Homo sapiens: one gene and its partners. The protein of the gene in region 6 purifies or fractionates together with the protein of the main gene of each other region. This does not show direct contact. Each region holds a gene or a part of one and is shown on either strand. Other genes may lie near its edges. The genes, in order: STRN, PMPCB, RSPRY1, DMAC2L, MOB4, SPINK2 and PDP2.

The links.
Region 1: the proteins of SPINK2 (region 6) and STRN purify together in Homo sapiens (affinity purification with mass spectrometry; 2 studies listed by BioGRID and IntAct, with this or other methods). This does not show direct contact.
Region 2: the proteins of SPINK2 (region 6) and PMPCB purify together in Homo sapiens (affinity purification with mass spectrometry; 2 studies listed by BioGRID and IntAct, with this or other methods). This does not show direct contact.
Region 3: the proteins of SPINK2 (region 6) and RSPRY1 purify together in Homo sapiens (affinity purification with mass spectrometry; 2 studies listed by BioGRID and IntAct, with this or other methods). This does not show direct contact.
Region 4: the proteins of SPINK2 (region 6) and DMAC2L purify together in Homo sapiens (affinity purification with mass spectrometry; 2 studies listed by BioGRID and IntAct, with this or other methods). This does not show direct contact.
Region 5: the proteins of SPINK2 (region 6) and MOB4 purify together in Homo sapiens (affinity purification with mass spectrometry; 2 studies listed by BioGRID and IntAct, with this or other methods). This does not show direct contact.
Region 7: the proteins of SPINK2 (region 6) and PDP2 purify together in Homo sapiens (affinity purification with mass spectrometry; 2 studies listed by BioGRID and IntAct, with this or other methods). This does not show direct contact.

What each region holds. Positions count from the first base shown.
Region 1 is NC_000002.12:36,844,537-36,848,036, forward strand, and holds part of STRN (striatin), read right to left. Parts: 3' UTR 1-3,500. UniProt on the Homo sapiens protein: Calmodulin-binding scaffolding protein which is the center of the striatin-interacting phosphatase and kinase (STRIPAK) complexes.
Region 2 is NC_000007.14:103,300,435-103,303,934, reverse strand, and holds part of PMPCB (mitochondrial-processing peptidase subunit beta isoform 1 precursor), read right to left. Parts: intron 94-3,500; coding exon 1-93. UniProt on the Homo sapiens protein: Catalytic subunit of the essential mitochondrial processing protease (MPP), which cleaves the mitochondrial sequence off newly imported precursors proteins. Preferentially, cleaves after an arginine at position P2.
Region 3 is NC_000016.10:57,210,329-57,213,828, reverse strand, and holds part of RSPRY1 (RING finger and SPRY domain-containing protein 1 isoform 1 precursor), read right to left. Parts: intron 858-3,500; coding exon 731-857; intron 1-730.
Region 4 is NC_000014.9:50,315,324-50,318,823, reverse strand, and holds part of DMAC2L (ATP synthase subunit s, mitochondrial isoform a precursor), read right to left. Parts: intron 1-3,500. UniProt on the Homo sapiens protein: Involved in regulation of mitochondrial membrane ATP synthase. Necessary for H(+) conduction of ATP synthase. Facilitates energy-driven catalysis of ATP synthesis by blocking a proton leak through an alternative proton exit pathway.
Region 5 is NC_000002.12:197,533,066-197,536,565, reverse strand, and holds part of MOB4 (MOB-like protein phocein), read right to left. Parts: intron 1,037-3,500; coding exon 936-1,036; intron 1-935. Other genes in the region: HSPE1-MOB4 protein, read right to left, coding at 936-1,036.
Region 6 is NC_000004.12:56,818,902-56,822,988, forward strand, and holds the start of SPINK2 (serine protease inhibitor Kazal-type 2 isoform 1 precursor), read right to left. Parts: upstream 2,801-4,087; 5' UTR 2,762-2,800; coding exon 2,557-2,761; exon of another isoform or gene 2,419-2,556; intron 1,679-2,418; coding exon 1,635-1,678; intron 1-1,634. UniProt on the Homo sapiens protein: As a strong inhibitor of acrosin, it is required for normal spermiogenesis. It probably hinders premature activation of proacrosin and other proteases, thus preventing the cascade of events leading to spermiogenesis defects.
Region 7 is NC_000016.10:66,883,515-66,887,014, reverse strand, and holds part of PDP2 ([Pyruvate dehydrogenase [acetyl-transferring]]-phosphatase 2, mitochondrial precursor), read right to left. Parts: intron 2,785-3,500; 5' UTR 2,731-2,784; coding exon 1,141-2,730; 3' UTR 1-1,140. UniProt on the Homo sapiens protein: Mitochondrial enzyme that catalyzes the dephosphorylation and concomitant reactivation of the alpha subunit of the E1 component of the pyruvate dehydrogenase complex (PDC), thereby stimulating the conversion of pyruvate into acetyl-CoA.

The DNA of each region.
Region 1 (3,500 bases), on a different chromosome or scaffold from region 6:
CATGTGGTCCTGGTTAAATTAAATCTAAAGCTTGGATTAGCAAAGATCCAGAAAATTCTGACCCCCTAAGCACCACTTTAGGAATACCGCCAGAATCAATGAGTGGGATCTAGGGATCTGTTTGGCCTAACATTTGTTTTTTTTAGAATTAAAAAAACAAAACAAAAACTGAAAGGATCTGTTAAATACTTTGTCAACCTGGCATCCCTGACACTGACATGAAGATCCAGTTGGATGATGGATATTGCCAATTAAAAAGTTTGTAGTGGCAAAAGTAAAAATGATTCAAATTGACGAATGACCTGTCCTTTGTTTTTAAACACAGATACGTTTTTCTGGGCCTTTCTCTAAAATGAACTTTAGGGCTTGATACATTTCACAAAAATATACATATTTTTCGTCAGCTACTACTTTGTATACAACCTGAATCCCAGTGTCCAACACTTAAAAGTACTGCAATTATATAAATTACTAAACAAGTTAACAGTAATGGAGAGGCAACTTCTGAGTAAATAAAATGAATGATTATGTACTTAATAGCCTTGTAGTCACTTTCAAAGAATAAAGTAATCTAAATAAAATTATACTTAGCACTCTTTTTCATGTAAGTTCAATAATTATTTGGCTATTGGTTGAAAACATCACACAGACAGACACCAACCAAAGATTCATTATCTCCACTCGCTAAAAACATTGATGGTTAATTTTAAGCAATTCTTTCAAAGAAAAACAAAATTAATTCTAAGCCTTTCAGTCTGATTTGTGACATCTTAATACAATATAACTTAAATGACAAAGCCTGAGAAAAGCACCAACATAGATTTTTTTTTAATTGCATCCAACCATCATTTCAGATGTCATAAAGATTTGCTTCAGTTAAAATGGCAGCAATGACAAAGAGGTAGATATGAGAGATGCTTTTTAAATATTTTAAGACTATTCTTAGGTGGAATTTTAACTAGTTCAGGTATTTAACCTAAAAATATTTACTAGTTGAATCTTTACCACATAAGAACTTCATGACATGCTGTTTTGTAAGAGGGAAATATATGAAGTATTAAAAAGTGAGCCTTTAAAAAATTACATTTACTTAGCCAACATTAATGAGATCCCATAATTTTGGTGAACAAATAATTTCTCCTTCTACCTGAACTTTACTATAATTAAAGAATAGCTATTGTTTTCTCTACTGAAATTTCTAGGAATTCACATTCAAAATTCTTGGAAAGTATATATGGTGCTCAGAAGAGCACAAAGCGCATGAAATGTCCCCTGAAGTCCTAGAAGTTGAGCAGATACATTAAAAAGACATTGATGGTCACAAATCAGGACCTTCACAGATTGGTAAACACACACACACACACACACACGCATGCATGCACACACACACACACACACACACACACACACACACACTAACTCTCTCTCTCTCTCTGTGCCCCCCCTCCCACCCCCTCCCCAAACTCAATCTTCATCCTCACTGTAAGGCTGCATTTTTTTTTTTAAAGGCACCTCTCATTTTCTAGCTATTGCCTTCTTGATGATATTTGTTTTTGTTAAAAAGTCTGAATGTTCAATGGAAATAGTTCAGTACTGAGAATAAAATATTTTTCAATTCACATTTGAATAGCCAGGTTTTCTTACATTCAGATTTTAATACACTAGAATGACAGTCTTTAAAACAAGCATGCTAGCCTATAATGAATATTGTATATACAGTAATTTAAACACTTAGAACTATATATTATACTGCAAAAGCAAACAGCACAACACTCATCATACTCATCATTATCTGCTGTGTATACTACCTCCAAAAATGAAAATACAAAACAGTAAAATGCACCTATGGTTTATATATATATATATATATATATATATATATATATATATATAGTTTATATATTATATATATTCTTACAATATATATAATATATATTTATAAAATATACATACATTTTAGACATTTTCAAATAAATCTTCATCATTATCTCCAAAAGAAATTTATAGCAAGAATACTGAAGGAATGAAAGTCAGATTAAAAAAAAAATTTCTCACAAAGTTCATCATCAGTGATGCAGCTCAATTTCCCCCGTTTTAGTCATAACTAAAATGATTATAAAAGCGAAATATTTTGCATAACTAAGTATTTGTTTAATGGCAAAAGTTGTTAAACTTGTTCAATAGAAAAATACTGAAGGTCATTATATCACTTTTGTTAAATAATCTGTCTATGGTTTGAGTAGCAAATGAGCTCCATATGACAGTTGAGTTTTGAGAAGGGTGCTGCAAGCTCCCAGAGATGTATCCACAGCATATGAAAATAAGGCAGGGATCCAAACCTCCCGCTAATTTTCATACTATTCCAATACATTTCAAACAAAATATTTACAAATGAAGCACTATGAAAGCATTTCAATGGCTGTTTAAACATTGAATTTGTTCATTCTGTGAATTTTCATTGAATGTTCAACAGGCTAGGGGAAAAGTCAGACACATGTATATGCTACTCTGGTTGGAAGACAGCTTTGGCTCATTTCTAGGCTGAGATCATGCAGTGCTGGTAGAGAAGACTCTCTCCGTAGTCTCCAATGCCACAGCACTGGCTTTCTAAGGAACTTTCAACAGTTCCATTTGCGCTACAGTCTATGTATCTCATGGTTATTTTCCACTCACTGACAGAAAAATTTCAACCATGAAGCATAAAATGAACGGGGGAAGAATGTCCTGGTTTTTAGAATTTCAGTGACATTAATAAAGCAGTAACTGAAGATCTTAGAAGGTAATTAATAACTGGTAGAACAATAGCTTTGTGGTCATCCATCATAAATACACCAAGTAATGGCATCTTCCTTCCTTCCTTCCTGGAAGGAATTTTCCAGTATCCTTCTACAAATGTTAGGTTAGAAACATTCTTTCTTCACTGTGAAGAACCAAAAGAAATTTACTGAACACAATATGGAATTCTGTATCTGCATGGAAATATTAAGTATTCACCTGACAGCTCATGTTTAGGTCAATTCATTTAATTACACAAAGCAGTCTCTTGAGCCTGCTTGTTAACCAAAGCACAAAGATGAAATGAAAAGGTAGCTGTATTACTACAGCATATCTGTATGAAAATCAGGCAAATTTAGCACAAGTCTCTAGCTTTAAAGAAAATTTGCCTGTATAATGCAGAATTCTAGAGGCAAACAGGCAGAAATTTTACAGAAATATTTGTCAATCATTAGCCACACCACCACCAGAATACTTTTTCAAGGAGTAGATGTACGTATCATGAGAAGCATCATTGTTATGACGATGGAAAATGTGGGGAATGGAATATGTAGAAATTGTTTTAATTGGTTAAAATATCTATAGATTTAATATTTTTAAAATCTAAGAGCCTATTTATATGTTTTTTGGTGGAAAGTTGGACGTTAATAATTTATTTCCAATTTCTAGATTGGTCTCTGTCATTTGGGACAAAGAGTAAGAGAGACATAAACCACTATAGAAAT
Region 2 (3,500 bases), on a different chromosome or scaffold from region 6:
CCTGCATCTCTCTAAGGATTACTCCACGCTCACGTTCAATCTCTGCTTCTCCCAATGTGCTGTTTTGTATTATATCAGCAAGAATTTCTACAGCTAATTGAAAATAAAATATAAGAAAACGTGCCAGCAATCTTAACTTTCACTATTAAAATCTATTAAACCAAAATCAGAAATCATGACACTGACCCATCACTCAATACTAAATGATTAGCCTAGGAGAAAAACATCAGATATACTTAACAGGACAAAATTAAAATTTAACATATAAACCCCTATAGTACAAAAGATTTTTTCCTTGGGGAAAAAGTATAAATTTGCCATCACCTTGTAATGACTCTACCTACTTAAAAAATGCTATGGAAATTTGCATATTAATATAGATTGTTCTATATGAAAATTACAAAGTTATATATATTAGTCTGAAAATACCTAGCTAGCAATGTACAGAGGGTTTGTATCACCCAAGTATTTACTATGCAAGTTCCCACAGCAATGACAGTGCTATGTTAAGAAGCAAAGAACTGGTCAGGCACCGTGGCTCACACCTATATAATCCCAGCACTTTGGGAGGCTAATATGGGCTTCAGCCCAGGAGTTCCAGACCAACCTGGGGAACATGCCAAAATCCTGTCTCTACAAAAAATACAAAAATTAGCTTCGTGTGGTGGCATGTGCCCGTAGTCCCTGCTACTCGGGAGGCTGAGATGGGAGGATGGGTGGAGCTCGGGAGGCAAAGATTGCAGTGAGCTGCGATTGCACCACTGCACTCTCGCCTGGGCAACAGAGAAAAGAATCCTTACAATCTAAAATATGCCCCAAATGAATCACAGAATTGTGTGTTCTCAAACCCTAATTTGCAAAAAGCCAAAAGTGAAGTGGAACATGTTATATTAGGCCATTAAGCAATTTTATCAGAAAAAGCGCATACCTCTCCAAAAAAAAAACTGTGCTTCATTCTTGAAGAATTAGTACATAGTTGCAATCATAAATCTAAATTTCATTAATACGATTAATGTTATAAAATAAACTTACAATCTTAAGTTTCTTTTTTTTCCCCTAAGAGACAAGGTCTCATTATGCTGCCCAGACTGGACTCAAAATTCCTGGGCTCAAACAATCCTCCTGCCTCAGCTTCCTCCAAGTAGCCAAGACTAAAGGCATGTACTACCGTGTCTGGTTTAGGTTTCATTTTTTACTCTACTACAAACTGTTGTTGCTTGTTTTAATTAAGTTCACTTTAAGGGGCACTGTCTCAGAACTGATTATGTTCAAATACTAAGAACATGACAGAACAAACTATTATAGTAAGCTGTGGCTGAGATCATGACCAAAAGGAAAAAATTATCTGTAAAACCAAATAAAACCCATCTGTCCAGATAAGAGAACAGAGTCCAGTAAAATGGGTGAGAAAGAGCCCATAGACAAATGGAAGGACAAGAATTCCTGTGTGAAAATCCTCCTTTATGTGGGATTGGTGGTCTACCCTGGTAGTTTCCAAAGGCAGGGAGGGGGGCTCCTATTTCCCAGTCTGTTTTAATCTGAATCTTTTTTTTAAATGTGTATTTAATATATGTTAGTATAGTAGCACATGTATTTAACTTACAAGTATACATACATTAAGGATATATGATCAACTTTCTTACCAATAAGAGTAAGTGATCATCATGCACACGTATGTTTACTGCAGCACTATTCACAATAGCAAAGACTTGGAACCAACCCAAATGTCCATCAATGATAGACTGGATTAAGAAAATGTGGCACATATACACCATGGAATACTATGCATCCATAAAAAAGGATGAGTTCATGTCCTTTGTAGGGACATGGATGAAGCTGGAAACCATCATTCTGAGCAAACTATCACAAGGACAAAAAACCAAACACCGCATGTTCTCACTTATAGGTGGGAATTGAACAATGAGAACACTTGGACACGAGGTGGGAACATCACACACCGGAGCCTGTCGTGGGGTGGTGGGAGCAGGGAGGGATAGCGTTAGGAGATATACCTAATGTAAATGACGAGTTAACGGGTGCAGCACACCAACACGGCACATGAATACATATGTAACAAACCTGCACGTTGTACACATGTACCCTAGAACTTAAAGTATAATAATAAAAAATAAAAATTAAAAAAAAAGAATAAGTGATCATAAAAACCTGGAGACCATTAGTCTAAACATCTAATTATTACTTCATATACCAGGCTTCACACCCAGGGTGAAGGGTGAAAAACCCCAAGTAAATCCCCAAAGTTGGAGCTGCTTCAGAGAGCACTTCCATTTTGCATTCCTCAGGGAAAGCCCCTGTTTTTCCACTCCCACTAGCAGAAGCTCTGTCGTTCCCAGCTAGATGCCAGGAGAAAAGGGGGAAAAAAGTCGTTTAATTTCATCCTTCCTTTTTCTGTTTCTCCTTTTTGCCTTCCCTGTTGTTCTGTGTAAATAAAGGAAGGAACTAGGCTGGAATGAACAACTCTTTAAAGAACCTTGGCCTAGCCATATGTTCTTGGTCCCTAATTAGTCCTGGGACAAAAACTGTCTCTATTGGTTTTGTTATTCAAACCAACATACCCTCCATCGTTGCTGTCATTTTTGTTTTAATGCAAAAGTTAGGGTATCATATTAAGTATTTTAGTTATTTACAAGTGATAGGTTTCTTATTTTATTGTTTTGACAAAGCAAATGAATCTGGTAAGAAGACACGCACTTGAGTCCACAGTAAGCCACCTGATAGCTATGCAATCCTGGGCAAGTCAGAGTCTGAGCTTCAATTTCCACAACTGCAAGGTGGAAACACCTATGCACATCAAATGGATAATATATACACAAAAGTACTTGTGTTAAGTGCCATTTAAACATTATTAATGAAAGTCTATTAGGAATCCAAAATTGCAAAGTAGTAACTACAACTACAGAAGGACCTTAAAGGTTAAAAATTTCACTAATGGCCGTGCACAGTGGCTCACGCCTATAATCCCAGCACTTTGGGAGGCCGAGGCAGGTGGGTCACTTGAGGTCAGGAGTTTAAGTCCAGCCTGGCCAACATGGTAGAACCCATCTCTACTAAAAATATAAAAACTAGCCAGCTATGGTGGCAGGAGCCTATAATCCCAGCTACTCAGGAGGCTGAGGCAGGAGAATCACTTGAACCCAGGAGGCAGAGGTTGCAGCGAGCCGAGATCACACCACTGCACTCCAGCCTAGGTGACAGAGCGAGACTATCTCTCTAAACAAAAATAATGAGTTTACCAATTAGCTCTAAAACTGCTAAATTTTGTTGTTAATTCTTCCACTGGGAAATGTTTTGTGTAATAACTTTTAAGAGAGTCAAAACAGTCTACAAACATGGTAACTAACAAACTGCTGTCCTGACAAAATATTTTATTCCCACCAAATAATCTCTATTTTATTGCTACATATTAAGAAAAACCATCATCCATAATTTACTATTTGTCATATTTAGAAAAAAAATAAGATCAGCTGTACCCTCACCCA
Region 3 (3,500 bases), on a different chromosome or scaffold from region 6:
GTAACAATCAAATTGTTTTGGTAGAACTCTTTCATGCACATTATCTTATTAAAGCCTCCTGCTCTGAGGTAGAAAATAGTACTAGCTCCATTTCACAGTTAAGCAAGTGAGCCCACAGAATTAAGCAACTAACTCCAGGGCACTTGGCAAGCACATGGGAGAGTCCAAACCAGTAGCCACATGTTCTGATTTCTAATCCATTGTTTCTTCCACATTACGTGATGTAAGTAGCTGAGCTATGCCCCTGTACTTTGCTGTTAACTTTCTTAAAATGGGTAACATTCATAAACAAATTAAATACCTGCTTCTCAGGAACTGCTCCAACCAGAAGTTCCTTTTCCTCTCCCTCTACCTTGTATGTCTTCATAATCGAGCTAAACTTTATAAAGTGTGTATATATGCAAATTATATATTGTATACACACATACATATCTTTGTTATGCTGAATTTAGCTTTTCTCCCTTTTTTCTTTTCCTCGCTCCTTATTCTTAAAGCAAATAAGCACAACTTTTTTCTTTTAAAATTTCCCCTGAAAATCCACAAAGCTAAATTAAATTGCATTCACCTCTGTAGCCTTTCAGTAATTTTCTTCCAGTTAGTCTATGTCTCTCAATATCATTTTTAAGAGATTTCTTTCTGGTATAGCAGTTTGATCAAAGACATACAGTACAAATTTCCCTTTAATGTCAAACAACTTAAGATCTTCCACTGTGGAGTGTCCCAAAGTTACCTGCTAGTTTCTCGGCCAAGCAGCCTAGGACTGCAGATGTGTTCCTGTGTTTGGCAGGATGGCTTGAGTCCTGGCAAGCTACTTCTCCATTTAAATTGAGAATTTCAGTCAATTTCTGGAGTGCATCCTAAAACAAAAAAGTACAAGTGGGTTTGACCCATATACTACACAGGTTGTTTTCCCAGGCTCATTTTTTTTTTGAGACAAAAGCTATAACCAGCACTTTGGGAGGCCGAGGCGGGCGGACCACAAGGTCAAGAGTTCGACACCAGCCTGGCCAACATGGTGAAACCCCATCTCTACTAAGAATACAAAAATTAGCCAGGTGTGGTGGTGCGCGCCTGTAATCCCAGCTACTCAGGAGGCTTAGGCAGGAGAATCACTTGAACCTGGGAGGTAGAGGTTGCAGTGAGCCGAGATCGTGCCACTGCACTCCAGCCTGGACGACAGAGCAAGGCTCCGTCTCAGGGGGGTGGGGGGAGCTATAACCAGGTGTTAAATAAACTCAGAATGACCATATAAAAATTATGCAATGTACCCTAATGATATCATTGATGGGAAATATCTGATCAACCTGAAAGTCTCCTTACATGACTTACTAGATTCCACTTCATTCAGAATGCTTAAGTTGTATCAAATATATGCTACATATTCTTGAATCACTAAACAGATTAAACCCACTCAGATGCCATTATGAAAACATTAAAGGCTGGTGATGTTGAAGTAAAAAGTTACTTTAAAAAAAGTTTTACTAAGCAAAAACAAATCCCAGCAGAGTTTTCTTCTTTTCTTTTTGCTCTTGCTCTGTTTCCCAGGCTGCTGTGCAGTGAAGTGATCATGGCTCACTGTAGCCTTTACCTCCTGGGCTCAAGTGATCCTCCCACTTCAGCCTCCCTCGTAGCTGGGACTACCGGCACATGTCACAGTGCCCAGATAATTTTAATTTTCTGTAGAGATGGGAATCTCATTATGTTGCCCAGGCTGGTCTTGAACTCCTGGCCTTAAGTGATCCTCCTGCTTCAGCCCCCAAAAGTTTTGGGATTATAGGCATGAACCACTGCACCCTGCCCCAACAGAGTTGAAGGCAAATTGAAACAGGCAGCTCTTATAAGCCTAGGCAAAGGTCAATTCATTGGTGACTACGCTAAAGACTTTCCCCTTCCGTCCACAATGTTTTTCTGCACTGGGCTTAAACAGATGAATGAAAATGCCAGAATTGAGGCTGGGCACAGTGGCTCATGCCTGTAATCCCAGCACTTTGGGAGGCCAAGGTGGGAGGATGCTTGAGCCCAGGAGTTTGAGACCAGTCTGGGCAACATAGCAAGACTCCATCTTAAAAATGAAAGATGCCAGAATCCAAAAGAAGAAAAAAAGAAAAAAAAAAAGGACTCTGTAAAACACATGGGAAAGCAATGAAAGTTCGATGCTTTTGTTCTATGTAAAGGATAACCAATGTTACACTAATCATTAATACATTTGAGTAAGATTCAAAAGTGCTTTCAGTTTTAACTTTTTTTTGTTGTTGTTGTTGAGATGGAGTCTCACTCTGTCGCCCAGGCTGAAGTGCAGTGGTGCAATCTCAGCTCACTGCAGCCTCCACCTTCCGAGTTCAAGTGATTCTCCTGCCTCAGCCTCCTAAGTAGCTGGGATTACAGGTGCACGCCATCGTGCTGGCTAATTTTTGTATTTTTAGTAGAGATGAGGTTTCACCATGTTGGCCAGGCTGGTCTTGAACTCCTGACCTCAAGTGATCTGTCTGCCTTGGCCTCCCAAAGTGTTGGGATTACAGGCATGAGCCACCGTGCCTGGCTTTCTTTTTTTTTTTTTTTTTTAACAGAGACAAGGTCTCACTATGTTGTTCAGGCTGGTATCAAACTCCTGAGCTTAACTGATCCTCCTGCCTTGGTCTCCCAAAGTGCAGGGATCACAGGCATGAGCCAGTACATTCAGCCCAGTTTTTCCTCTTAATAAAAAACATTCTTAAAACTTTTGTTATGAGGAAATTGCTTAGAGAAAGATAAGAAAATCAGCGAAGCAACTCAACATTCTCTTCTAGCTTCTGAATAAAGATCGCCACCTGAGATACAAATACTTCTTTTTTTAACCAGGCTGGAGTGCAATAACGCCATCTTGTCTCACTGCAATCTCGACCTCCAGATTGCAAGTGATCCTCCCACCTCAGCCTCCTGAGCAGCTGGGACTATAGGCATGCACCACGTTACCCTGTTAACTTTTGGATTTTTTTGTAGAAACAGGGTTTCACCATGTTGCCAGGCTGGTCTTGAACTCCTGGACTCAAACAATCTGCCTGCTTTGGCCTCCCAAAGTGTTGAGATTACAAGTGTGAGCCACTGCGCCCAACCTAAATGCTTCTTTTTTTTTTTTTGAGACAGAGTTTCGCTTTGTCGCCCAGGCTGGAGTGCAGTAGCACAATCTCAGCTCACTGCAACCATTGCCTCCCAGGTTCAAACAATTCTCGTGCCTCAGCCTCCTGAGTACTGGGATTACAGGTGCCTGCCACCACTCCCGGCTGATTTTTAGTAGAGACGGGGTATTTTAGTAGAGACGGGGTTTCACCATGCTGTTCAGGCTGGTCTCGAACTCCTGACCTCAGGTGATCCACCCACCTCAGCCTCCCAAAGTGCTAGGATTACAGGCGTGAACCACCGCGCCCAGCCTTAAATGCTTCTATTTTTAACATTTAAAAAATTTTAACCTAGGCTGGGCACAGTGGCTTACACGTATAATCCCAACACTTTGAGAAGCCAAG
Region 4 (3,500 bases), on a different chromosome or scaffold from region 6:
AGGTGTGAACAAATACCATGAGAATCTAGAGAAGGGAGTGAGAAGAAGGCCTTCACACTAGAGGTGTCTTTTGAAATGGGTCTTAATGATTAAGAGTTTTCAGTTAGTCTAGAAGCAGAAGCAGAATATGAAAAAAAAAATTCCAGTTAGAACGAAAAAAGAGTATGCAAAGTAAAAGAACAAGGATGGCATCTTATTCATTTCCATTTTTCTCAGCATAATGCAAAAGTTTAATAAATATTTGTTTATTAATAGTCTTCAACGGTTGACATGTTTCCATGGAGAAAGGTAAAACCAGTTAAACTGTTATTAAGCAGGTGAATTAGAGTGGTCTTTGAAAACTGAATATTTTTGCTTGATTCATTTTGGCCCATCTTATAATTTAGCTTAAACGAAAGGCCAAATTTACTTAGGCTGTAATCTCTAAAAACACAAGATATTAGATTTAAAATGTTTTAAACATAAAAATTAAATTTATATTTGGCAATAGAGGTAACAAAAATTGGTAGGTTTTTACATTTCAACTGCAACTTTGCTAATGATTTTGCAAATTATTCCTACTTGAGTCCAAACAGTTGCCTTTGGGAACGCTTTCTATAGGGAAAGAGGAGACCTCTAGTGGGAAGTTAGTGAATCTAGCTCTAATAAATTAAAAGAACCCAGTTAAACGCAAATTAGAAAATAACCACTACTAAATTACTGCTGCCATAGATAATCCACCATGATTGAGTTTCATACAGGGATGCACAAATGGCTTAACATACACAAGTCAATAAATGTTATATGCCACATAAACACAATTAAAAACAAAAATCACATGATCATCTCAATAGATGCAGAAAAAGCATTTGACAAAATCCAGCATCCCTTTGTGATTAAAATCCTCCGCAAAATTGGCATACAAGGGACATACCTCAAAGTAATAAATGCCATCTATGACAAACCCACAGCCAACATAATATGAACGGGGAAAGTTTAAAGCATTCCCTCCAAGAATTGGAACAAGATAAGGATGCCGACTCTCACCACCACCACCCCCCTTTTTTTTTTTTGGAGATAGTGTTTCACTCTTGTTGCCCAGACTGGAGTGCAATGGCATGACCTCAGCTCACTGCAACCTCTGCCTCCTGGGTTCAAGCGATTGTCCTGCCTCAGCCTTCCAAGTAGCTGGGATTACAGGCGCCCACCACCACGTCCGGCTAATTTTTTGTATTTTTAGTAGAGATGGGGTTTCACCATGTTGGCCAGGCTGGTCTTGAACTCCTGACCTCAGGTGATCCACCCGCCTTGGCCTCCCAAAGTGCTGGGATTACAGGCATAAGCCACGGCACCCAGCCCCACTCTCATCACTTCTATTCAACATAGTACTGGAAGTTCTAGCTAGAGCAATCAGACAAGAGAAAGAAATAAAAGGCATCCAAATCGGTAAAGAGGAAGTCAAACTTGCTATTTGCTAATGATATGATTGTATGCCTAGAAAACCCTAAAGACTCCTCCAAAAAGCTCCTAGAACCAATAAATGAATTCAGCAAAGTTTCAGAATACAAAATTAATGACATAATTAGTACCTTTAGTATACACCAACAGTGACCAAGCTGAGAATCAAACCAAGAACTCAACCCCTTTTATAATAGCCACACACACAAAAAAAACTTAGGAATATGCCTAACCAAGGAGGTGAATGACCTCTAAAAGGAAAACTACAAAACACTGCTGAAAGAAATAACAGATGACATAAACAAATGGAAACACATCCCATGCTCATGGATGGATAGAGTCAACATTGTGAAAATGATCATACTGCCAAAAGCAATCTACAAATTGCTTCAAGTTCATTGCAGATTCTGGATATTAGTCTTCCCATCAATACAATTCCCATAAAAATACCATCATTCTTCAGAGAACTAGAAAAAACAATCCTAAAATTCATATAGAACCAAAAAAGAGCCCACATAGCCAAAGCAAGACTAAGCAAAAAGATAAATCTGGAGGCACAACATTACCTGATTTCAAACTATACCATAAGGCCATAGTCACCAAAACAGCATGGTACTGGTATAAAAATAGGCACATACACCAATGGAACAAAACAGAGAACCTAGAAAGAAACCCAAATACTTATAGCCAACTGATCTTCAACAAAACAAACAAACATATAAAGTGGGGAAAGGACATCCTATTCAACACATGGTACTAGGATAACTGGCAAGCCACATGTAGGAGAATGAAACTGGATCCTCATCTCTCACCTTATACAAAAATCAACTCAAGATGGATCAGGGACTTACATCTAAGACCTGAAACTATAAAAATTCTAGAAGATAACATCAGAAAAACCCTTCTAGACATTGGCTTAGGCAAGGGTTTCATGACCAAGAACCCAAAAGCAAATGCAATAAAAACAAAGATAAATAGTTGGGACTAAAGAGCTTTTGCGTGGCAAAAGGAACAGTCAGCAGAGTAAACAGACAACCCACATAGTGGGAGAAAATCTTCACAATCTATACATCTGACAGAAGACTAACATCTAGAATCTACAATGAACTCAAACAAATTAGCAGAAAAAAACAATCCCATCAAAAAGTGGGCTAAGGACATGAAGACAATTCTCAAAAGAAGATATATGAATGGCCAAGAAATATATGAAAAAATGCTCAACATCACTAATCATCAGGAAAATGCAAATCAAAACCACAATGTGATACCACCTTACTCCCCGCAAGAATGGCCATAATCAAAAAATTAAAAAAAAATAGATGTTGGCGTGGATATGGTGTAAAGGGAACACTTCTACACTGCTGGTGGGAATGTAAACTAGTACAACCACTATGGAAAACAGTGTGGAGATTCCTTAAATAACTAAAATTAGAACTACCATTTGATCGAGCAATTCCACTACTGGGTAGCTACCCAGAGGAAAGGAAGTCATTATACAAAAAAGATACTTGCACACGCATGTTTATAGCAGCACAATTTGCAATTGCAAAAAATGTGGAACCAACCCAAATGCCCATCAATCAATGAGTGGATAAAGAAGCTGTGGTATATATATATGATGGAATACTAGTTAGCCATAAAAGGGAATGAATTAATGGCATTCGCAGCAACCTGAATAGGATTGGAATTTATTACTCTTTTTTTTTTTTTTTTTTTTTTTTTTTGTGAAACAGAATCTTGCTCTGTCGCCAGGCTGGAGTGCAGTGGCGCAGTCTCAGCTCACTGCAACCTCCGCCTCCCAGGTTCAAGTGATTCCCCTGCCTCAGCCTCCCAAGTAGCTGGGATTACAGGCATATGCCACCACGCCCAGCTAATTTTTTGTATTTTAGTAGAGATGGGGTTTCACCATGTTGACCAAGATGGTCTCAATCTCCTGACCTCGTGATCCACCTGCCTTGGCCTCCCAAAGTGCTGGGATTACAGGCGTGAGCCACTGCACCTGGCCTGGAGTTTATTATTCTAAGTGAAGTAACTCAGGAATGGAAAACCAAACATCGTATGTT
Region 5 (3,500 bases), on a different chromosome or scaffold from region 6:
GGGAAACGGAAATACTATATTAGCGGTTAAGAGATACAATTAAGGAAAATCATGAAATAAGAATAAAACCCAGGCTGGCATGGTGGTAATCCCAGCACTGTGGGAGGCCAAGGTGGGTGGATTGCTTAAGCCCCGGAGTTTGAGACCAGCCTAGGCAACATGGTGAAACCTTGTCTCTACAAAAAATACAAAAAACTAGCCAGGCTTAGAGGCATGCACTAGTAGTCCCAGCTACTCAGGAGGCTGAGGTGGGAGGATTGCTTCAGCATGGGAGACAGAGGCTGCAATGCGCCAAGATTGCACCACTGCATTCCAGCCTAGGCAACAGATCAAGACCCTGTTTCAAAAAAAAGGCGGGGATAATAAGGCCCAAATGAATAAATGTAGAAAGGGTGGCTCAATACTTTGGGAGGACAAGGTAGGAAAATTGCTTGAATCCAGGAGTTTGAGACTAGCCTGGGCAACACAATCAGATCCTGTCTCTACAAAAAATTAAAAAATTAGTGAGGCATGCTGGCACACACCTGTAGTCCCAGCTACTCTGGAAGCTGAAGTGGGAGGATCACTTGAGCCTAAGAGGTAGAGGCACAGTAAGCAGTGATTACACCACTGCACTCCAACGTGGGCAAGAGAGTGAGACCCCATCTCAAAAAAAAAAAAAAAAAAGAAAAGAAAAGAAGAGAGGTGCAGAGGCAGGTCCAAATTATCAACTCTGAAATAAACCACCTTTCAAAATGAGTGACTCTGCAGCATAATTTGACCTGGAAACAACCAGTGAAGAAAGCTGAGAACCTTGTGACACTGAAAATGCCAAAGCTTTAAAATTTGGCTTCTTAGTCTGCAGTTACATAGTAAATTTTACAATTCATAATTATCATTAATATGAAAGCTAGTTTTGTGAGAGGTACTATTAGTATTTTGATGTAAGGTCCTACCTTAAATGTTCATACTTCCACACACCTTCATCTTGGCCTTCAGGTGGTTCAAGAATTTTGTCAATATTGGAGCAATCTGCTCTTATGTTCTGTTGAATATACTAAAAACAAAGAAGTTCTTATGGTTAATTAAATTATATCACCTGGTAAATCTTATGTTAAGTACATATAATTTGTTAATACATAACTGCTCTTGTGGTTCAACTTGGGTTATACACTAAATAGGAAACCAAGTATAGAATCATAATCAGTAACTAAGAAAAAAAGTAGGTTACCCTTACTTATTTATCCTTCAATTCAACTTCATTTGGATAGAATCTACTACATAAATGCAGATATTGTATTTGTCAGGACTGGAACTTGGATCAAAATTGCAAACCATAATTTCTTTTTTTTTTTTTTTTTTTTGAAACAGGGTCTCACTGCATCACCCAGGCTGGAGTACAGTGGCACAATCTCAGATCACTGCAATATCCACCTCCTGGGCTCAAGCAATCCTCCCACCTCAGCCTCCTGAGGAGCTGGGACTACAGGCACACGCCATCACGCCGGGCTAACTTTTCCATATTTTGTAGATACAGGATTTCACCATAGGCAATGTAAATATAACTATGGTACATATTGTGATTTGGTTTATATGAAGTGTCTAGAGTAAGAAAATCTATTGAGACAGGAAATAGATTTGTACTGGTGTAGGGCTTGAGGGCAGAGAGGAAGGCAGAAGAGACTGAAGATGGCTGCTAATGAGGGTGAGGTTTCCTTTCAGGAAGGATAAATATGTTCTAAAAGGCCGGGCGTCGGGGCTCATGCCTGTAATCCCAGCACTTTGGGAGGCCGAGGTGGGCAGATCACAAGGTCAGAAAATCGAGACCATCCTGGCTAATATAGTGAAACCCAATCTCTACTAAAAATACAAAAAAATTAGCCAGGCGTGGTGGCACACACCTGTAGTCCCAGCTACTCTGGAGGCTGAGGCAAGAGAATCGCTTGGACCCGGGAGGCGGAGGTTGCAGTGAACCAAGATCGTGCCACTGCACTCCAGCCTGGGCAACACAGTGAGACTCCATCTCAAAAACAAAACAACAACAAAAAAGCTTTAAAATTAGACTGTAGTGATGGCTGTGCAACCCTGTGAATATAATCACTCTAACTGTATAGGGATTTGTATGGTATGTTCATTAGATCCAATAAAAGTTGTTTTAAATGACTAACAGAAAAAACTAAGTTTAAAAAAAAAGGCAAGGGAGGGTCACTTTCAATTTTTAAAATGTAATAACATAAAAATTTAAATTTCAGATCTCTGTAATGCTTTATGCAATCTTTTTGATATTCTGAAGTCTAAATACGTTAGAACAGATTAAAAGGGTGGTTACAAAAACTTACTAACTATAAGGCCTTCTTGAGCCAATCAATTTTGCCTACTTCAGACAATCTTTCTTGAATATCACTTGCTTACTCAAAAACTTTTTTTTCCAAACAAAAGGTCTCACATATTTAGTACTGAACCAGCCTACTGCAGAGCATAGAAACCAAAAGAAAAACCATTGTTCCAATACAGCATGTACAACTGTCCAGATGATGGTGACATTTTCAGCTTGATATGGTGACATGATAGTGACCTTGATGCAATATTAAGTATGTGTGCCATCTCATGTAAAATTCCTTCTAGACCCAGCTTGGTTCTTTTCCAATGTCTCCTCTTAGAGTTGTACCTGATTTTATTACTCAGTTTTCATCTGAATCCACTGGGGAATGGGACGATTTTGCTTTTGTTTCTTGGCCAGGAATCACTTGATTCTAAAAGTCTTAAAGTCTTGTGGGAAGGCATGGCAAAGAACTGAGTCACACGCACACACCATGATGACAGGGAAAGGGATCAAATACTTTTTTTTTTTTTTTTTTTTTTTTGAGGAGTTTTGCTCCTGTCGCCCAGGCTGGAGTGCAATGGCTCAGTCTTGGCTCACTGCAACCTCCGCCTGCCGGGTTCAAGCGATTCTCCTGCCTCAGCCTCCCGAGTAGCTGGGAATACAAGCACCTGCCATCACGCCCGGCTAATTTTTGTATTTTTTGTAGAGACAGGGTTTCGCCATGTTAGTAAGGCTGGTCTCAAACTCCTGACCTCAGCTGATCCACCCGCCTCGGCCTCCCGAAGTGCTGGGATTACAGGCATGAGCCACCGTACCCAGCCTCAAACACTTTTTAATGACTCTTTAATTACTATTGAAACCACTCTCCCTGATTTTTTTTATCTCATCCTAATGTTTCAAAGTTTTGATTCTCTCTCTCCTTGAGGAGATACAGCTAAATTGTATACCTTCTCCAAAGGCCACCTCAAATTCCACATCACAATTCTGTCCAAATCTCTCGTTCCCCCAACACACTCAAGCACTCCCTGATTATTCGAATCCTCACAGAACTCCATCCAATTTCCTGCCACATTTGTAATTTGTATATATTAGCAATCTGTCTATTCATTTTTGTCTTTCCTGTTCCCACTACACCTTCTATGGATAGAAATTTTTTTTTGTTTTTGAGATAGAGTCTCACTCTGTCGCCCAGGCTGGA
Region 6 (4,087 bases):
ACATTATACCTGACAACATGCATACAGTTTCCTGGAGGACGTAGGCAAACAGGCAATTACAACCTAATGTTGTGACAGGGTAGAGAAAAGCACTGGATCTGGAGTCAGACTGCCTGGATGAGAAGCATAGCTCCACCACTTCCATGTGACCTTGGCCAAGGGGATAATAATGAAATAATGATCCCTACCTCACAGTACTGTGAAAGATGAAATTAGTTATTATATATGAAGCATTTAGAACACTGGTGTGGCATGTAGGTATCTAAGTATTTATTATTATGATGGTGATGATGATGCAGTATAGGTAAGCACAGAGAAAGTGTGTGTGTATACATATCTACATCTCTAGAGGAAGGGAATCGCGTGGGAAGGCTTCCTGGAAGAAGCCTACTCTGAGCTGAATGCTCAAAGTTAACCTGCTGAAGTCAATATCCTCATATGTCAAATAATGTCTATCTTACAACATCATTGTGAGAATTGAGAGACCAAATATACAGACAATGACTAGTCCTTATATAAAACAGAACTCTGACCCACAACCTGCAGCATCCTGTCCAGGAACCCAAACCATTATTTAGAATAACCAGGCCAGGAGGCCAGCCGGCTATAAGCCAGACTTGAAGGAAATCAGACTGCTATCTCTAGTGACAGTCCAGGAAGCAAAACAATAACCCCTTTAACAATCAGCCCAAAATGGCTAGGACTTTTTTTTCTTTCTTTTTTTTTTTTTTTGAGATGAAGTCTCACTCTGTTGTCTGGGCTGGAGTGCAGTGGCATGAACTCAGCTCACTGCAACCTTTGCCTCCCAGGTTCAAGTGATTCTCCTGCCTCAGCCTTCCCAGTAGGTGGGATTACAGGCACGTGCCATGATGCCTGGCTAATTTTTTGTATTTTTAGTACAGACGGGGTTTCACCATGTTAGCCAGCATGGTCTTGATTTCCTGACCTCGTGATCTGCCCACCTCGGCCTCCCAAAGCACTGGGATTACAGGCGTGAGTCACTGCGCCCAGCTGCAAAATGGTTAGGATTTGATTACTAACTGACAGCTTCCGTAATTTCTGTCCTTGATTCCAACTTAGGACAACCAGAGAAAACCAAATACACACCCCTAACCCATACCATAGAATGTTGTGCTTCTAGTTAGCTCACCTACAGCTTCCCTGTGCCAACAGCCTCCAATCAGGCCATACCTGAAGCCATTCCTTTTTTCCACTATAGTTTTCCCACTCCTCTCTTTGACTCGAGTCCCTACTCAAATGCAAGTGACAGTGGCTGACTCTCTTGCTATAACAAGCCCTGAAAAACATAGCCTTTGCTTGTTCTCATTTGGTTGGTCTCCATTTACATCCTCAGAATTTAATTTGATAAAGTACATAAAATATCTAGTACAAGGCATAACTTTTTCTAAGGACCTTTTGAATCTTTAAAGGAAATATTAACACAAAGACTGAGCTGTTTTCAACTAAAACTTACACTTTTATCTGAATCAAAAGGCCTGCCTGACAACCTGGTTTTAAACGCAGTCCTCAATGGTTTCAAAAGTGGCAGGTCAGACCTGAAAGCCAGCCTCCCTCCCAAACGGTTTTGGGCTTCACTGTATTAGTAGAAACAGTAGAAGTGGTTTGCTACTTACCGTTCTATATTTTGAAAACAGACCAAATTGAGGGATCAGAGAGGCTGTAAGAAGAAAGCATAGACATTTTACAGTATAGGATCAAGGTAAGGTATTGTTCATGAAGTTTTTTTTTTTTTTAAATGAAGTCTTGCTATGTTGCCCAGGCTGGTCTTGACCTCCCGGGCTTAAGCGATCTTCCTGCCTAGGCCTCCCAAAGTGCTGGAATTTGAGGCATTAGCCACCACATCCAGCTTCATAAGGATGTTTTAAAATCCAGTTTGGGATTTATCCAGGCCACATCTTCTATTTTCCCCTCTAATGCCTACCTTCTTTAAACTGTCCCCATCCCACTTCCCCCAGAAAGGATATTCAGTTTTTTATGGCACCTCTCCCCAAAAGCACATAGAAATAACATTTGGTTCTGTTCCCATTAGGGTTGGTTGAGAAAGGACTTTGAAGCTATGGAATAAAAGTCGCGCTAGCGCACTGCAGCTTCAATTCCTGGTCTCAAGCGAGCCTCCCGCCTCAACCTCCGGAGTAACTGGGACTACCGGCCCAAGCCACTACACCTGGCCAAGGAAGTAACCCTTAATTAATAGTTCATGATGTTATTTTCCTTTACAACTCGGGGTAACAAATACAAAATTTAATATAAGATGTGAGCATTTTAACTCCATTTTAAGAGAGGTGTCCAGTGTGGTTGGACTAAAGCCCCTTTCTCGTAAGCATCCACAATTCCTCATTCCTGCACATCTCCTCCCTTGGGACCATACATAAAAACTCAACTCCTCATCTTGGGCACCTGAAAATCTACTTTAACAGAGAAAGCGCTCTAGATGGCAGGTGTCCTTAGAGCTGGGAGCGAAGCCCAAGCAAGAACTAAAGAGGGTGGCTGACTCCACAAAGCCACCCCCACAACCCCCAGTTCGCGTTCCTCCACCTGGCAGGTCCTCTGGGGAACCGCCAGTAACGGGCGCGCGGGTACCGTCGCCGAGGCCGCCCGGAGCAGGGCAGGGTCCGCCGCCGGTCTGACTCCCAAACCCGCTTTTCTCCGGAGGTCCCCGCTCGCCAGGACCGCTCCGAGCGCTACCTGCGAAGGTAACTGCCAGGAGCAGCAGCGCCAAGCGCAGCACCGACAGCGCCATCCTCCTCCCGCGCCGGCTGTCTTGCCCCTGCGGTCTGTTACCTGCGCCACTCGCAGGGAGCGCTCGTGCGACGGGGCGCGGGGAGGGCGGGGGAAGGGGCGGGGCGAGAATGGGAGGAAAAGCAGCGGTAGGTGGCGAGGGAAGAGGGGCGGCGGGAAGAGGAGCGGCGGGAAGAGGAGCCGTGAAGGGTCGGGGGAGAACCGGAAAGGGCTGGGAAGGAGAAAGGTAGAAGGACGGGGGAGGGGGCCATGGGGAAGGAGGGGCGAGGGAGATAGAGGAAGGGGCAGTTGTTCCCCAACACCTTCCCCTCCCCCCAAGGAGACGAAGGGGAAGACCTCTCCCTCCGACATACAAGAACCTGTGACAGTCCTAGGGGGACCCTTGTGGAGCTCTTGGGAGCTCTGTCAATCAACACCTATTTCTTAAGCATGTACTAAGTCCCAGATAGTGTTTCGTTGCTGAAGACACAGCCCTGACCTCGACAAAGGAGGTCCTTGCTCTCAGGAAGCGTTCTGCCTTTCCCTCTTTTAATATATTTTTTAACTATTTGAGTTGACACATAATGATTGTACATATTTATGGGGGTACATAGTGATATTTGGATACATACAATGTGTAGTGATCAAAATAGGATAATTAGCATATTCATCACCTCAAACATTTATCATTACTTTGTGTTGAGAACATTCAAAATCCTCTCATCTAGCTACTTGAAAATACATAATAAATTATTATTATTATTTAAATTTCAGACAGGGTCTCGCTCTTTTACCCAGGCTGGAGTGCAGTGGCACGATCTCAGCTCACTGCAACCTCCACCTCCCAGGTTCCAGTGATCCTCCCACCTCAGCCTCCCTCCCAAGTAGCTGGGACCACAGATATATGCCACCATGCCAAGCTAATTTTTGCATTTTTTGTAGAGAGGGGTTCTCACCATGTTGCCCAGGCTACTCTCAAACTCCTGGGCTCAAGCAATCCGCCCACCTTGGCCTCCCAAAGTGCTGGGATTACAGGCTTGAGCCACCGTGCTCGACCTTTATAATATATTATTGTTAATTGTCGGCACCCTACAATGCTATGAAACACTAGCACTTATCCTTTCTACCTAGCTGTAATTTTGTATACTTTAACCAACCTCTCCCTATCCCCCTATCCTTCCCAGCCTCTAGTAACTACTGTTCTACTCATTACTTCTGTGAGAAATAATTTTTGCCAAAGAGGCTGAGCAAGTTAGTGCATTAAGGCCAGGCGTGGTGGCTCACGCCTCTAATCCCAGCACTTTGGGAGGCTGAGCCTGGTGGATCACTTGAGCTCAAGAGTTTGAGA
Region 7 (3,500 bases), on a different chromosome or scaffold from region 6:
AGCCTTTGTGTTTTCACCTCTCCAGATAGAGGTTGAATCTTAAGTCCACAATCCGCTAAATTAACCTGTCCTGTCTAAACGTCTATCACCACAACTACCACATGCAATCACATTTTCTCCTTTCCTGCAGCCATAGGAAGCAGGAACATGTGAAAGATTCTTTCAGACAATATTTTGCAGTTGGCAGGTGCAGGGTGAATGAGGGGTTCAGCATAGCAGAGGTAGAAGGATTGTGTGGAATTGACAGAAGAATGTTTGAGAGGTATAATCAGAAAGCTTAAATGCTGTGAATCAACCCCCAAAGGCTCAGCCCAGGAGGAAATTTTACTAATGCAGGAAAGGTCAGGAGTTAAGGCATAGACTAGTTACCTCCTAGCATGGCTCAAAGTTTCTGGAATGGGACTCAGTAGAGGGCACAAAAAGCTGCACCAGTAAGTTCAGCTGGTCCAGAGGCATAGATCCTATCAGCTGAAAACCAAAACAAGTCATTCCAAGCATGCTTACAGTAGGCGTGTTTGCAAGTTTAAGGATTCAGTTTTAAAATAAACGAAAACAGAACTAGAATGTAGTATTACAAAATTTCTCACAAGCATAATCACAAAAAAAAAAGTTAGGATATTGCATAGAAAAGGGTCCTGTAGTATGCTTTGTAAACCTAGACCTTAGTAATTTAAATAAAAGACAAACAAATAAAATATCTCTTCATAGTCTACAAGTCCATGATTGTGAATTCAGGAGAATTATCAAATTTGCAGATTTTTGTGGCAAGACCTAAGAAGCTCCTGAAGTTCTTTATTCTCAGAATCATGATTAAATTTACCCTTTGAAGGCTCAGGCTGACACAGTTTAACAACATCTTTATCAAATGACTGGGGCTACACAAGCCCAAGCCAATTCTATAGACTTTATGCTCTGTCCTCTCTGCATATAAGACTTAATCAGAACATACAGGGACATGAAATCACTGCTATTTCACTGTTTTTTAAAGCTAGGCTGTTTGTTTTTTTCCTCCTGTTAGTCTATTTAGCAAATTAAATCTGCCTGCGCTTTTAATAGTAAGGTTTGGATAGCTAGTTTAGGAGTAAGTGAAACATTTTAGAAGAGCATTTATGTTAACCTTGACAATAGGATGGGAGATTCTTAACCCCCCTTGTAATATGCACCGATTGATTCTGAGTTAAAATACACCACAGTGACAGTGATATCATCCCTGTACATCCTCGCCAAGTCCTCTGGCAATGTCAGCATCGCCGCCAGCCGCTCTGCCTCCATCTCCCCATACTCATTGTTCCCGATGGCATGTCTGATCAGCCGCGTGGCTGCATTTTGGTCAGCCTCGTGGAGCCCGCTGGCTTTCCTCTGCAGCAGCAGGCTCTGCATGAGCCCCAAGTTGGCGGGTCTCTGGGCCAGGTCTGTCTTGTGCCAATCTGCCTCAGCCAGGTGCCCCACCACCAGCCTTACCACGTCCTCATTGCTCAGCATGTCCCACAGGCCATCTGAGGCCAGCACAAGGAACTTATCCTGGGGCCTCAGCCTGTGGTATGTGACCTCAGGCTCAGCAGTCAGGTAGGGTGGAGTGTAGTAGTGTGGGGGTGTGAACTGGTAAATGTTGAGGGCCTCGGTATTGAAGCCCCTCTCCAGAATGCTGCGCTGCAACTCTTTACTCCACTTCAGCTGAACATCCCCAAAGGCCCTGCAGGGGATGAGGACGCCCAGTAGCCTGTCCTCCATGATGATCGTCCTGTCCTCTGACTCAGGGTGCTCCCTCTTTAGCCGGGACAGCTCGGCCTGGTTCCAGGCATTGTGGTCACGTGTAAGGGGCAGACAAGACCACATGCCATTGTCCTCTTGGACACCAAGGATGGCTCGGCAGTCACCAGCATTTGCCACGTGCAAGTGAATTCCATCAACATGGGCCATGCAAGCTGTTGCCCCAGAGAAAGCAACCTGGAGTGACAGGTTCCTTGTCACCTCATCTTCCAGGGGGGCCTGGATTTCCAGCGAGATGTCAGAATCCAGTCTCTGGAAGGAGTACATTAATGCTTCTTCAATGCTTAGTCCCATTTCCATGTGCAAATCAAGCAGTTCCTGCCAATAGACACGGAGGTGGTCAAGATGCACAGATGTGACATCCTTGTAGATACTGTCCCCTGGGTGCTTGAGCCAATGCAGGATGGGCAGCAAGGGTTTCATGCTTTCCATAGCTCCCTCCATGTGCTCCAGGGTCTGGTGGGACATCAGGGACACTGCCACATAGTAGAAGAGCCTCTCGCTCACTGCTTGGGCACATGCATGACCACCATGTCCATCGAAGATGCCAAACATCAGTCCATTGGTTTGCAGGCAGGAGGCTACACCTCGCCGGTCCTCCACTGGGGAATTGGCAGCCAGCTGGTTGCTCTCAAACCGCAACACTGAATTTGGGACTCTGCTTTCAAGGTCAAGAATCTTGTGGGTTGTCTCGCCAGCTCGAAGCACTTCATTTATCTGCTCAGGGCTGAGTTGCAAGTGAAAATCATCTTCCTCTGTTGATGTGTGTCTGTAGGCTTTGCACAGAGTAAAGCCACCACATGGGGAACTGTTTAGGGTGGGTGGCACCCGGGAAAAGAGCCTCCATTTTAATTTATTCCTATTTGAGACATACCTGGAGTATAAGCGTCTACCCCCTTGCAATGTGGCAATGCTGTTCCTTGTAGAATTTAAGATCCAGTAGGACACAGTACTTGACATTCTGAAACTATACCAGCAAATGTGTTCCTTCAGCAAAAAAGGATATTTTTAAACCTAAAAATTAAAAAGTTGAAGTTTCAAATTTAATTTCTTTTTTTTTTTTTTTTTTTTGAGACGTAGTCTCGCTCTGCCGCCCAGGCTGGAGTGCAGTGGTGTGATCTCTGCTCACTGCAAGCTCCGCCTCCCAGGTTCATGCCATTCTCCTACCTCAGACTCTGGAGTAGCTGGGACTACAGGCGCCCGCCACCACACCTGGCCAATTTTTTGTATGTTTAGTAGAGACAGGGTTTCACCATGTTAGCCAGGATGGTCTCGATCTCCTGACCTTGTGATCCACCTGCCTCGGCCTCCCAAAGTGCTGGGATTACAGGCGTGAGCCAAAGCACCCAGCCACAAATTTAATTTCTTAAAAATACTGACTTCTGAAAACATTTGCTAATATCCTGAACAAAAATGACTTAGAATAAACTATTTAAAATACACTAAACTCACTCTCACCAGCAGACTATAAGTGTTCATTTAAATATCTGCTTCGGGGGCCAGGCCTGGTGGCTCATGCCTGTAATCCTAGCACTTTGGGAGGCCAAGGTGGGTGGATAGCTTGAGCCCAGGAGTTCGAGACTAGCCTGGGCAACATGGTGAAACCCTGTCTCTCCAAAAAAATAAAAAAAATAAAAAAATTGCCAGGCATGGTGGTGTGTATCTATAGTCACAGCTACTTGGGAGGCTGAGGTAGGAGAATCATCTGAGCCTGGTAAGTTGAGGCTGCA